3 separate regions of the Homo sapiens genome follow, and all the other regions are linked to region 1. Evidence: fine-mapped expression QTL. A gene starts in region 1. Each other region holds a variant in brackets. All regions are shown on one strand. Distances are between the middles of the regions.

Region 1 (4,243 bases):
TCCTGCTTCTCCGTTCCAATAACAGACAGGTGTTCCCCCTCCCCCCACCAGCAAGGGTCATTCTTGGCTTGCTGAATGGGTCAAGTAGCTATTAACAATATATTATTAATGACTGAATGCAAGGAGAAGAAAAATATTGATCGAAGTATTCATGGAATTTCTGAGTGTCAGCGGTGGAAGAGTCTTTGGGAATCATTTAGTTCAAACTCTCCTTGTAACATAAGAAAAATAAGACCCACATAAAGCAAAATCTCACAGGTAGGCAATGGCTATAACCAAGATCCATCAAAGGACACGGTCAATGGCCTCCATCTGCTTCCAAATTTAAATGGCCTCTTTGTCCGGACAAAAGTTACTAGTCCTGCTCAGCAAGCTTTGCAAAAAGCAGTGAGTATCCTGTTGCTAAGTGTGTTTAAACCCAGGCTGGACACACTTTGACAAGGGATTTCCGCCCTGGCAGTGACCAGATGACATCTGAGGTCCCTGCAACCACAGAATTATCATTCTTTTTGTCATTGCACCTAGGTTGCCCATGTTAACCCAGTCACAATTTGCATGTTGTCCACAAAGACCTGAAAGTGGACAAATCAGTGACTGAGACTACCACATAGAAGTTGTCTCCAAGCGCAAGCTTCCTTCAGTGCCTCTAACCACAGAGGAACTGGTCAAATAGCTTGCCCCCATTCCTGCTGCCCGTGGCCCCTCATTTCTGAAGTGCCTATCAGCATGCGTCCACAAGCAGATAGCTGTCTGAGTATGATGCCCACTTGGCCCCCAACCCTAGACCTGCTCACTAAATATCGGGGCAGACTACTCACTCAAGACCTGCTCCTGTCACCTGTGGGCCACGGGATCTCTCAAAGGAGACAGGAATACAGGAACTGAGCTTTTCTAAGCCATATGGCAAGAGCCAAGTCTTGCAGCCACACCGCTCCTTGTAAACACCGCCAGGCCTCAATGGCTGCACTGATCCCTCCTTTCCAAAGTGCCCATTCTCACTTCTGCTGCCCTCACCTCACTCCAACTTTAAACGCTGGAGAGGGGAGGAATAAACTAAAACTATGAGCCCACTTCCTCTTGCTGCCATTTTTCAGTACTCGAAGGCACAAGGTGGTCTAAGAGACTGGGGTTAGAGAGCCTGTGTCCAGCCGATCAGAACTGCCGTTGGTTAGTGTCTCGGGGGCCTGCGGATATCTCTTTGGCCAGCTCCCCAGGCTGCGGGATCCGCCCTGGCGTCCCCATCCCGGGCTCGCACCTGCGGCGCTGACTACCTCCTCGCTGGCCAGGCTCGTCTCGGGTGGGCCCTGATGACCCAAACCTTCCTCCTCACGGGGAAGTCAACTGGTCTCCGGGGACTCCCACCCCATGCAGCCTCCCTGTAGCCTGTGGCTAATTCGAGCGCCTCCAGTCAGGGGCTAGCCAGTGTCCAGGTGAGACCTGGGAGTGGAGGGAGAAGGGAGCGCTGCCGGGCGCCCGGCCTCACCTGGTAATCCAGGGAGAACTTCACGCCCTGCTCCACCTCCTCGTGGAAGCACTGCTTGGCGTTGTCCGGCAGCTCGAAGGTGAGCTCGGCCCCGCAGGGCTGCTCGGCCCGGCGCAGGAGCAGCAGCAGAAGCAGCACGGAGGCGGAGCGCGGGACAGTGCTGCCCATGATGCTCTCGGTCCCGTCTCGAGGGCCGCGGCTCGGGCGCTGCGCCCCCGGCGGGCTGGGGCGACGACTACCGACCGGGTCCTAGGAGGATGTAAGGGGATAGACGTGGCACCAGCGGAGCTCTGCGCTTCCGGGAGGGCCGGCGGCTCAGTGCGCAGCCGCGCGCTCAAAGTGGGCCCGGGCACCTTCCGCCCGCTGCGCGTGCGCGCTGGCCGCGCTGCGCCAGGGGACACGCCCCCCCCACCCCCCCGCAACGCCTCTCCCGGCTCGGAGGGTGGGTCTCCGCGGAGGGGAGGTGGGGCTCCACCTAGCGCGCCCCTACCCAGAAGAGGGAGAAGCCCTCCCCGCTGTTCTGCGCGCTCCCGGACCCGCAGGGCTGAGCATCCCCCCAGGTCGACCCAGGTCCACCCTCCAGCTGCTGCAGCACGAAGCACGTGGGATTTTACTCCCTCTATAAGGCTCCGCTTTTGACAGGCTCTGTAACTTCAGTCTCACACTTCCCTCGAGAACCAGTCTCCTTGTCTTGAAATGGGTGTGCCCAAACCTAACATCCACAGTAGTTAGGGAGCTAGGTGAAAGATAAGGGAACGCTGGGAACCCGATTAACACTCCTTTCTTCATTCCCATACCCTTCCCAAGGTGAAAGAGTGTGCGAAGGGGGTGGGGAGTGGGGAGAGTAAGTAAAGACCCATCATTACACCTGCTCTGGGAAAAACACGAGCGTGCTCACACACAAACGATCTCATGAAAATCCAAGTAAAGTCTCGCAGCGACTTCAGGTATATTTTGGCTGTCAGGCTCGTTGAAAATTCTTTTTGCACAAAACTGTCATTTTTGCACTTTGACTTCTTAAAAGCTCTGAAAGCAGATAAATTGGTTTACTGTCTTACCCATGACCACTGACTTAAGATTCTTTTGTATAATCGTAACTATAGGTATAGTTTTATATTCACTGTGATCCAATAAACAAAGAGAAAAGACGTAGATTGTGATGTCGATACTCAATAAATAACTTATTCAGGAGAGCATTACTAGACGTGGTATATCTTGACTTCAGGAAAGAATGTTACTGCCCATATAGATTTCCGCTGGCCACATTCACTATGGATGAACACGCTAATGTGTGAAAGCAATCTGTAGGCTTGGAAATAACATGCATGCATAACATAGTTAATAATATTGACTGGCTCAGTGACAGGCATGGAAGAGGTGTTTAGTAGTGTCCCTTAAGCTTCCTTCCCTGGCACGGTCCTATTTCACGTTTTTTTTTTTTTTAGGAACTGATAGAAAACATGGAAGTAATAATCATCTGATCTAGATGAACTAAGTGGAGAAATAAATGACAGATATAAAACCACAATTGGCCGGGAGTGGTGGCTCACGCCTGTAATCCCAGCACTTTGGGAGGCTGAGGCGGGTGGATCACGAGGTCAAGAGATCGAGATCATCCTGGCCAATGTGGTGAAACCCCTTCTCGACTAAAAATACAAAAATTAGCTGGGGGTGGTGGTGCGTGCCTGTAGTCCCAGCTACTCGGGAGGCTGAGGCAGGGAGGCAGGGGTATTGCTTGAACCTGGGAGGTGGAGTTTGCAACCTGGCGACAGAGCAAGACTGCGTCTCAAAAAAACAAAACAAACAAACAAAAAAAAAACACGATTGCCCTGGCACAGGTGGAGTGCTCTGCTAAGACTAACAAAAAGAAATTTCGGGCTGGGCACCATAGCTCATGCCTGTATCCCAGTATTTGGGGAGGCTGAGGCAGGAGGATTGTTTGAAGCCAGGAGTTCGAATCTAGCCTGGGCAACATAGTGAAACCTCGTTTCTACAAAAACAAACAAACAAAAATTAACCAGGCATGGTGGTGTGGGTCTGTAGTCCCAGCTACTTGGGATGCTGAGGTGGGAGGATTGCTTGACACCAGGTGTCTGAGGCTACAGTGAACTGTGATTGCACTACTGCACTCCAGCATGGATGACAAAGGGAGACCCCATCTCTAAAAATCAAAATAAATTCCTCCGGATTAAATGTTAAGTCTTACATTTAAGTTCCAAGAAAACACCTGCATAAGTTCAGGGGAGGAGCTGACATTGAAGAAGCTCTAGTCAGAGCATGCAGGCTGTTGGCTGGGACACCTCGGTTCTCCTCCAAGCATCCTCTTACATCTAATAGGCTAGATTACTTCCTTATATGGCAGGTTCAGGGCAGCATCCCAAGAGGAACTAGGCAGAAGGAGCAAGGCCCCTGAGACCTAAGCTTCAGACCTTTTCCAGTATGACTTTCTCCACATTCTGTTGACCAAAGCAAGTTCAAAGGCCAGCCCAGATTCAAGGAGGTGGAAAAATGGAATCTACCTCTGGATTTGAGGAGTTGCAAAGTCACATTGCAAAGGAGGGTCATACTGGGATGGAAGGAATTATGGCTGTTAAGCCATCTTCTATAGTATCCAGACTCACTCAGCTTGTCAATGGCTAAGCCAGAAAGTGAACCCAGATCTGCTTAATTCTGAAGACTACCAGCTTCCCACTAAACACACTGCCTCTACCCATACCTCAGGGAACACTTGTCCTACATGTTCCATAGGGCAAACCTTGG
Region 2 (4,243 bases), 80 kb after region 1:
TTTTTTTTTGAGACAGAGTCTCGCTCTGTTGCCCAGGATGGACTGCAGTGACGTGATCTCAGCTCACTGTCAGCTCCACCTCCCAGGTTCACGCCATTCTCCTGCCTCAGACTCCCGAGTAGCTGGGACTACAGGCACCCACCACCACACCTGGCTATTTTTTTGTATTTTTAGTAGAGACGGGGTTTCACTGTGTTGTACTGTGTTAGCCAGGATGGTCTTGATCTCCTGACCTCGTGATCCGCCCGCCTCGGCCTCCCAAAGTACTGGGATTACAGGCATGAGCCACTGTGCCTGGCCTCTTGTCATTTTTAACAGCCGATTTGTCTGTCTTTTCAGGTTGTCTTTTAGCAGTATTAGTACTTGCTAACTATTTGTGCCTACTATTTACTACATGCATGTCTGCTTCAGGTAATAGCTGGGAAAGCGGATCTTGCTTAACAAAGGATGATGGGGAAGGGCATTTTAGGGGCCAGCTTGTGCTGGAACACATTCCCACCTGTCTACCTACCTGGCCTCAACTCAGCCTTCATGATTCACCTGGCAGGCCTTCTTTCGGCCCACAGTCCCCTGGGAGGATATGTCTCCTAGTGTTTTTTATCATACTCTTAAGGCTGTAAAAATTCACCTTTGTTCTTATCCAAGTTTTAAAATTTGTTTGCAGAGTTATGCGAACTACTCTGTAATCATTCTTTTAATTTAGCTTTAATGGTTTCATTTTTATATTTAACTCTTGGATCCATATGGAATTTATTTGCACATGAAGAATGAGGTAAGAAATCCAATTTTTCCCCCTTCAAATAACTAACCAGTTTTCTCAACACCGTTTATGGAATAACCCATCCTTGCTGATAAATTTAACGATGCCATTTTAATCAAATACTCAATTCCCATATGTGCTTGAATTCATTTTTGGACTCTCTATTTTCTTACACTGGTCTCTTAGTTTATTTCTGCCCTAAAATTATATTGTATTAAATATCTGTAGCTTTAAACAATGTTTTTGTTTTGTCTTTGTTTTTGTATTTTATTGTGTGGGTTATGACAATGTTTTGATACCTGATAGTATCATAGTCATGTTCATTATTCTTATTTTTTAATTTTTTTTCTGATTCCAATTATGTGTTCATTCTACCAGATAAAATTTAGTTTAACTTACCAAATTTCAAACAAAATTCTCTTGGTAATTGGATTGGAAACACACTGAATTTAGAGATTACATTCAGAAATTGAAACTGCTCTATTGAGTACTCTTCTAAAGAAAATCAAGGGAGGTTTTCACTGACTGAATTATTTTTTCTGGCTTTTAATAGGAATTTAAAGTTTTTAGCATAGGGCCCTAACATTGATTATTAGATTTGTCCCTAAATATTTAGTTTGTTTCTATTGTAAAAGGCATCTTTTCTTCTGATATGGTTTGTGTGTTTGTCCCCTCCGAATCTCATGTTGAAATGTAATACCTAAGTGTTGGAGGAGGGTCCTGGTGAGAGGTAATTGTATTATGGGGGCAGATCCTCACGAATGGCTTAGCACCCACCATCCCCTTGGCGATGAGTGAGTGAGTTCTTCCTCTGAGTTCATGCGAGATCCAGCTGTTTAGAAGTGTGTGGCCCCTCCCCTCTCTCTCTCTCTTGCTTCTGCTCTCACCATGTGACACCACTGGCTCCCCTTCACCATCAGCCATGATGTAAGCTCCCTGAGGCCTGCCCAAAAGACAAGCAGATGCTGGTGCCAGGCTTCTTGTACAGCCTGCAGAACTGTGAGACAATTAAACCTCTTTTCTTTATAACTTCCCAGCTTCCGGTATTTCTTTATAGTAATGCAAGAATGGACTAACACATCTTTTGTTAAATTTTCTAACTGGTTACTAATAATGAAGGTTTGATTTTTGATATAAATTTATAACCAGGTGCTTTTTCCTTTCTAAATTTTTTACCTCTTATGTCTTTCTCATGTATGATAATAGGAGTTCTTATTTCTGACTTTAATGGGAATGCTTTTGGCTTTTTACATTAAGTTGTGATTGTTTGGGGTGGAGGATTATAAATTTTTGTAATGCTAAGGAAGTATCTATTTTATTAATTTTTTTAAAAACCTAAAATGAAGATTGAGCAATGGCAAATGAGTTCTTTGGCATCAGATTTTCTAGTATTGAGCCATGCTTACATTCTTGGGCTTTATTTATCTTTGTGTATCTTTCTTTTAGTGTCTTATGCTTTCTCTCTGCTGATATTTTATTTAGGATTTTTGCATTGGTTGTCATAATTGAGATTAATCTGTAAATTCTTCTTTTTTCCCTTCTTTTTTCTATCTTTCATTTGTATCAGAGTTTGGTATAGTGTGGTGTAAGATTCTCCCATCTCTGGCAACAGTTTAAGAAGCACCATAGAGCTTGGTACTGTGGCTCATGCCTGTGATCCCAGTACTTTGGGAGGCTTGATGGGGGTGGATCACTTGAGGTCAGGAGTTCAAGACCAGCCTGGCCAACATGGAGAAAGCCTGTCCCTACTAAAAATACAAAAATTAGCAGGCTGTAAATATGGAGGCTGTGAC[G/A]TTTAAGATCAAGAAGCTGGCATTGGTTTCTGGTGAGGGCTGCTGTCTGTTTCCAAGATGGCGCCTGTTGCTGTGTCCTCATATGGCAGAAGGCAGAAAGGCAAGGGGATGTTCCCTTCAACCTCAAGCCCTTTTATAAGGGTCCTAATCTCATTCATGAGGACAAAGCCCTCATGACTCAATCACTTCCCAAAGGCCACAGGTCTTAATATTATTGGTATTGGGAATTCAGTTTCTGTATGACTTTTAGAGGGCTCAAACCATAACAGGACACAAGAATTATGAAGAATCGGGGAATCATGACACATCCAGAAAGCCCTACTAAAGCTGCAACAATGGACCCCAAAGAAATGGAGATCTATAAAATGACTGAAAAATAATTCAGAATAACCCTCTTAAAGAAGGTCAGGGAACTAAAAGAATATATACAGAGAAAATTAAATGAAATTTGGAAAAGAATACACAGACAAAATGAGAAATTTAACAGAGAAATTGAAACAATAAAAAATAGAAATTATAGAGATAAAAAATATAATAACTGAACTGAAAATTTTAATAGAAAGCTTCAACAGAAATTTTGATTAAATAGAAGAAAGAACCAGTGAGCTTGAAGATAGGACATTTGAAATTATCCAGTCAAATAATAAAAAAAGAATGAAGAAAGCCTCCAGGAATTATGGGATACCATCAAGAGACCCAACATTCACATAATAAAAGTTGCTGAAGGAGAAAAGAGAGAAAAAGAGCCAGAAAGCATGTTTTAAAAAATAACAGCTGAAAACTTTCCAAATATAGGAAAAGACGCCAACATCCAGGTACAGGAAGCACAGAGATCTCCAATTAAATCCAACCCAGAAAGGAGTTCACCGAGATATATAATAACCAAACTATCAAAAATCAAAGACAAAGAAAAATTTCCAATAGCTGGGTTTTGACTCAGTTGGTATATAGTGTTTAAATAGCCAGTTAAACATAGAGTAAATAGTCATAGAAAAACAAAATGGTTCCTCCTCTCCTAGTAAATACAGTTTATCTGCAGAATGAAGATAAGGGCTTCTACATCTAAGGCAGGATCTTTACCTTGACACTATTGACATTTGGGACTGAATAATTCTTTGTTGTGGAGCACTGTCTGTCCTGTGCATTGCAGGATGTCTAGCAGCATCCCTGTCCTCTATCCACCAGATGCCAGTAGCACCCTCCATACCTCCAGTTGTGACAACCAAGAATGTCTCCAGACATTGCCAAATGTCTTCCCTTGTTGAGAAGCATTGACCTAGGAGAAACACTCCACACCTTTCTCCTAGGCTTCCCACTCACCTATTCCCATCAGTTGCCTTCAAATAGAAGTTTCAGAGTGAGATGTGTGGCAGAAGTGCTGCTTTGTAACAGTGGAGAAAGCCTCTGCTTTGACTTCTAGAAGCTTCTATCTCTGATGATACCTTTCAAATTTATGGTAAAAGCTTGTAATCCTTTATTTAGTTGAATGCTACCAATTTATTCCTTGCTGGCGTGTCTTCTATTTCAATTTTTTTATTAATTTTATGGAGAGGGAATTTACGTGTTCCTCTATACTCCACCACCTTTCCACACCTGTCTCCTCTCTCGGTCCCAGCTCCGAGTTCTTTTCACTGCATGTCTGACAGAGAAATGTCAGGTTACAGTAAAATTATAATTAGATCTATAGTCA
Region 3 (4,243 bases), 190 kb before region 1:
ATGTGACACCCAGGTCCCATCCTGTAACAGCAAGCACTATGATAACCAGAACTTTTGCCTGATAAACAATTGCTAAGCTCCAGCCCACAGCCAACTAATTCCACACACCAGTCATCCTAGCACACTCACATAAAAGAATTTGGACAGTTTGTTGAAATTCACTGTGATCCTATTTGTCTCGGAATTAAAACAACATTAATTGGGTATGTGCGACAGTTCATTTTGGTTCCTTTGGATTGGATTGCTGTGCAAATGGGTAGTGAATACAAGGGAAATATTTAACCTAATTGAACATGAATATACTCAATTCCTGAGTCTTCTTCAAATCACTTTGGCAACTGTGTTATTGAGGACGAGTAATGAAAGTGCTGAACATAAATTTTCATCAATTTTTTTAAAGCACTTGCTAGCTTCTATAGCACTGATCAATATCGTAAGCCAATAGCAGCAGCATCTTGATAAATTAATTTATGTGATATGGTTGAATTTTTAAAAGTCTTTAACATTTTCTTGCCACCTCCTGTTCAGGAGAATGTGTGAGGCTTTGCAGCATGAGGACTCAGGTGAGCTTGAGGACCTCTGTGAGCTTATGAAGTCTGTGTTTTAAATGACTTGCAAGATAAGATGAGTTGTTATGCTCCCATCCTAAGGACAAAGCCACATGATAGGAATTAAGGTTAGGGGATTTAGAGAACATCAAAGCATTTTTATGCCCTTGAGAACAAGCTTGTAAACATCTGGTAAGGACATGAATTGAATTGATAGGAACCAGGGTTATCATATTAACTAGGATGCAGATGATTCATGTTGAAGCTTTGGAAATATAAACTTAGGTTCACATTGCAACTCTGCTTCTGACAAGCTGTGTCACCTCAGCCTACAAACGTCATCTTTCTTCAGCCCTGTAAGATCACCCATGAAGGATGATTGGGAGAAGATGAGATAATGCATCCAAAGGAATCAGCATAGTGCCCAAAACATACACTTAGAAATGTAATTTTTCTTCCCTTATGGAGCACTTGAGTCCACACATAATGCGTGTGCACAGTCTGTGGAAACAGCAAATTCAAGGATCCAGTCTGGGGGCCCATTAAAAAGGAAGCCTCCACAGAAGAGTTAAGGGAGTGATTGATTAACCACTGCAATTCATTATGAAGGCCAGGAGGGAAGATATCACTGTGACAAATTGCTTGGTTTTCTTTTCTGTTTTTACATTAATGCATTTGTCAGCACAAGAGGTGGGGAGAAAAAACAAAAGACGTTCTAGTGTCAGAGAACCTCTTATTGATTGGGTTCTGCATGACATTCTCATTAAGAATGAGAAGAGATGGTTTCTGTCTAAGTGTGAGGGCAGCCCCACCCCGGGACAGGAGAATGGCCAGGGTGGCTTCAGGGCATTGCCCCTCCAGCCCTCAGATTCTGTACTCTTAGCATTCCCCTCCTACCTTTTCTAAAGCAGGGATGGTAGGAAGAAAAGAGAGAGGAGAGAAGAGTAAATGAAAGCAACATTTTATTCTTTGACAATGGCTTGACTATGTGATAGTGAAGAGCCTCAAGTCTCAGTTTCTATTTCTATAAAATGGGTATAAAACCACCTACTTTTTAAAGATGGAGTATGTATTAAATGAGACAAATGTCACTTATCACTATCTGATACTATGTTATATGTTCATTGTCTCCTTTTTGTATCATGGGTCTCCTCACTAAATTAGGGTAAAAATATTGTGTGCTTTGTTCACTACTGTATTCTCAGCATCTAGAACCCTGCCTAGCACATAGTC[G/A]GTGCTTTATAAAAATCAGTCGAATTAATGAATGAATAATGTATATAAGGGGTTTAACACAGTGTCATTACATACTAAGATCTCAAGATTGGTGGCTTTTGGATGAGATCGGGTGTGTTCAGGGTGGCGTGGCCGTAGACTCAATATTGGTGGCTTTCAAAACCTTAGTGAATAGGTGATGGAAAGTTCATCTTGGGATCTGTGAAAGCAAGTTAGACTCAGCTTTGAATCCAGCCACAGAGTGGGTGGATCAGTGCAAGGAGGTGGCATAACACAATTGGAATCCTCAAATCCCAGGGGCATGAATGAGTCAAAGGTCACTGCCTGTGGGCTGGAGTTAGAAGAGGTGAGACTGGGGTCCTGGGTTGGTGTTGGCCTGTTGCCTCATCCTGAGATGGAGGCTCATTGCAGCTCTGCTCCTGAGAGGTAAGGGGGCAGGGGCATCAGGTCTTTTTCCCTGTGGGTATGGCCTCCCAAAGGCAGGGTGTCTTACACGGGCAGGGGCACATTGGAGAGCACAAAGGTGGTTCTCACTCCCAAAAAGTGCTTCTTCTTTGAAAGCCCTTGTCACCTACATCACTGCTCCCCCACCAACCCCCAGGGCTAAGTTAGAGCCTTTTGTTATGAGGTCCAAGCGCACCTCTCCTCTCCTACACACAAATGTGGAGAGGAGAGTGTGTGTGCCTTTCCTGAGCCTCATACCATGAAGCAGGGATGGCTTCTGAATGTTCCCTGCTTTATTCCCAGCATCTAGCATAGTCCCTGGCCCGTTACATGGGTTCAATAAAGTCTGTAGAGTGAATGAATGAATAGATGAATGAGTGAAGTACATCCCTTATATAGGTAAACAAGAAAACTCTTGTTTACACCCCGTGCCTCTCTCTCTCTCTAATTCAACCCCTGCCACTTGTACTTCATTAACCAAAAAAAAAAAAATGAGGTTATAACTCTTTGAGCACCAGGATTTCCTATGCAGACTCAGACATGCAGCAAACAGGTACACTTTGGGCCAGGAGACCCCACTGAAGAGTCCCAACTGTGATTGGCAGGCATCTATGTATTCTATGAGAGTTAGTTCCCACCTAAAGGTGTCCCTTCAGTCCTGCACGGAGATGTCTTTGTGCTCAGGGGGCTGGGGCCATGCTAAGGGGTGACCCTGAGCACCAGGTCATGGGGAGCAGAGCCTGAGAGCCTCTGGAAGCCTGTTAAATGCTCAAGGCCAGCCTGACTCTGTGGCCCATGGTGCAAACAGTTGATTTATTTCAGAGGGATGCATTTGCATTCCAGCTGCTGGCCCAGGGAAGCTTCTCTTTTCCCATTTGCCAAGTGCATGCACTCACACACCCCCTTACATATACTCACACTGTCACACCCACACACACACAACCACCCAGGCACACTCACGGACACTCACAGACACATGTACACTCTCACACATATTCACACACATCTCACATGTATAACACAGTCACACATACACTCACACAGATCCAAAGTCACACACACTTACATGTACTCCCAATCACACACACGTACACACCAATTACATATACTCACACACAACACATAATACATTCTCTCACACATAAAGTAACACACACTGATATATACACTCACACATATTCCCACTTTACATATACTCACACAGTCACACACTTAAACTCACAAACACACACAGAAACACCCTGGCCAAAATAGGAGAAGGGACAAGTGAGACTCCGTAATTCCTAATGGAGGCAATGTCCCGGCTCCTCCCCTGTACCTCTGAGTCTGAGGCCCCCAGTTCCTGGCTGGGGCTCTGAGCCCTTTTGTTAGGCAGAAACTGGGCCCCATGAGCCCCTGGTCAGCTGGGCCTTGGGCACTGCCTGCCCCACCCCCCTCCCTCATGCCCCACCCCGCTCCCTCCAGGGAGCCTGCCCCACCCCGCTCCCTGCTGAGTTCCCCACCCCAGCTATTGAAGACCCTCTCTCTTACCCCCTTCCCTGTCTCTCTCAGCAAATGATGAAATTCCTAGCTTCCCTGTCCCTTCCACCTCCCACATCCTTGGGTCATTCCCCCTCCCCCTGCTTCCCACTTCCCCAGCAGTAAATGGCAGCACGTCAAGGAAGAAATCACACAGGCTTTGGAGTCAACAGGCATGGGTCTGCCTCCTGCCTGGTCACCTTCTGGCTGTGTGGATTTGGGAGGCCAGGCACCTTTTCTGATTCCAAATTTCCTTATCTGTCAAATGAGATCATTTATATTTCAGATAAATAAATAAATGAGATAAAGAATGGAGGAGTGCCAAGACTGGTACTGGGGGCACCAGTCTGTGCTTGGTATGCGTTCACTTCTCTCTCTTTCTTCCTGCCAAGGTTAATTCCTCCATCTGGGCAGCCCCTCATCCGGGCTGAAGTCCCTCGCCCTTCACTGTATCAGTCAACTTCTCCTTCAAACACTGACCTTCTCTCCATGTGGCTTCT

Evidence for each region. PIP is the estimated chance that this variant, and not a neighbour inherited with it, causes the effect.
Region 2: its variant is the best candidate, but not a certain one, in a credible set for the expression of TMED3 in tibial artery (GTEx, PIP 0.84).
Region 3: its variant is the best candidate, but not a certain one, in a credible set for the expression of TMED3 in whole blood (INTERVAL, PIP 0.85).

The regions. Positions count from the first base shown.
Region 1 is chr15:79,308,658-79,312,900 of GRCh38, reverse strand. TMED3 (transmembrane p24 trafficking protein 3) reads right to left here and starts at 1,789. Exons shown (of 3, transcript NM_007364.4): 1 at 1,484-1,789. The coding sequence starts at 1,651. RefSeq lists silencers at 1,616-1,685, 1,896-1,945.
Region 2 is chr15:79,228,345-79,232,587 of GRCh38, reverse strand. All of the region lies in intron 1 of ANKRD34C-AS1 (ANKRD34C antisense RNA 1), which reads left to right. Among named protein-coding and RNA genes, the nearest start is that of MIR184, 21 kb to the right of the region's middle. The variant G/A (reference allele first, on the strand shown) is at 2,554.
Region 3 is chr15:79,494,872-79,499,114 of GRCh38, reverse strand. No RefSeq gene overlaps it. Among named protein-coding and RNA genes, the nearest start is that of MINAR1, 65 kb to the right of the region's middle. The variant G/A (reference allele first, on the strand shown) is at 1,782.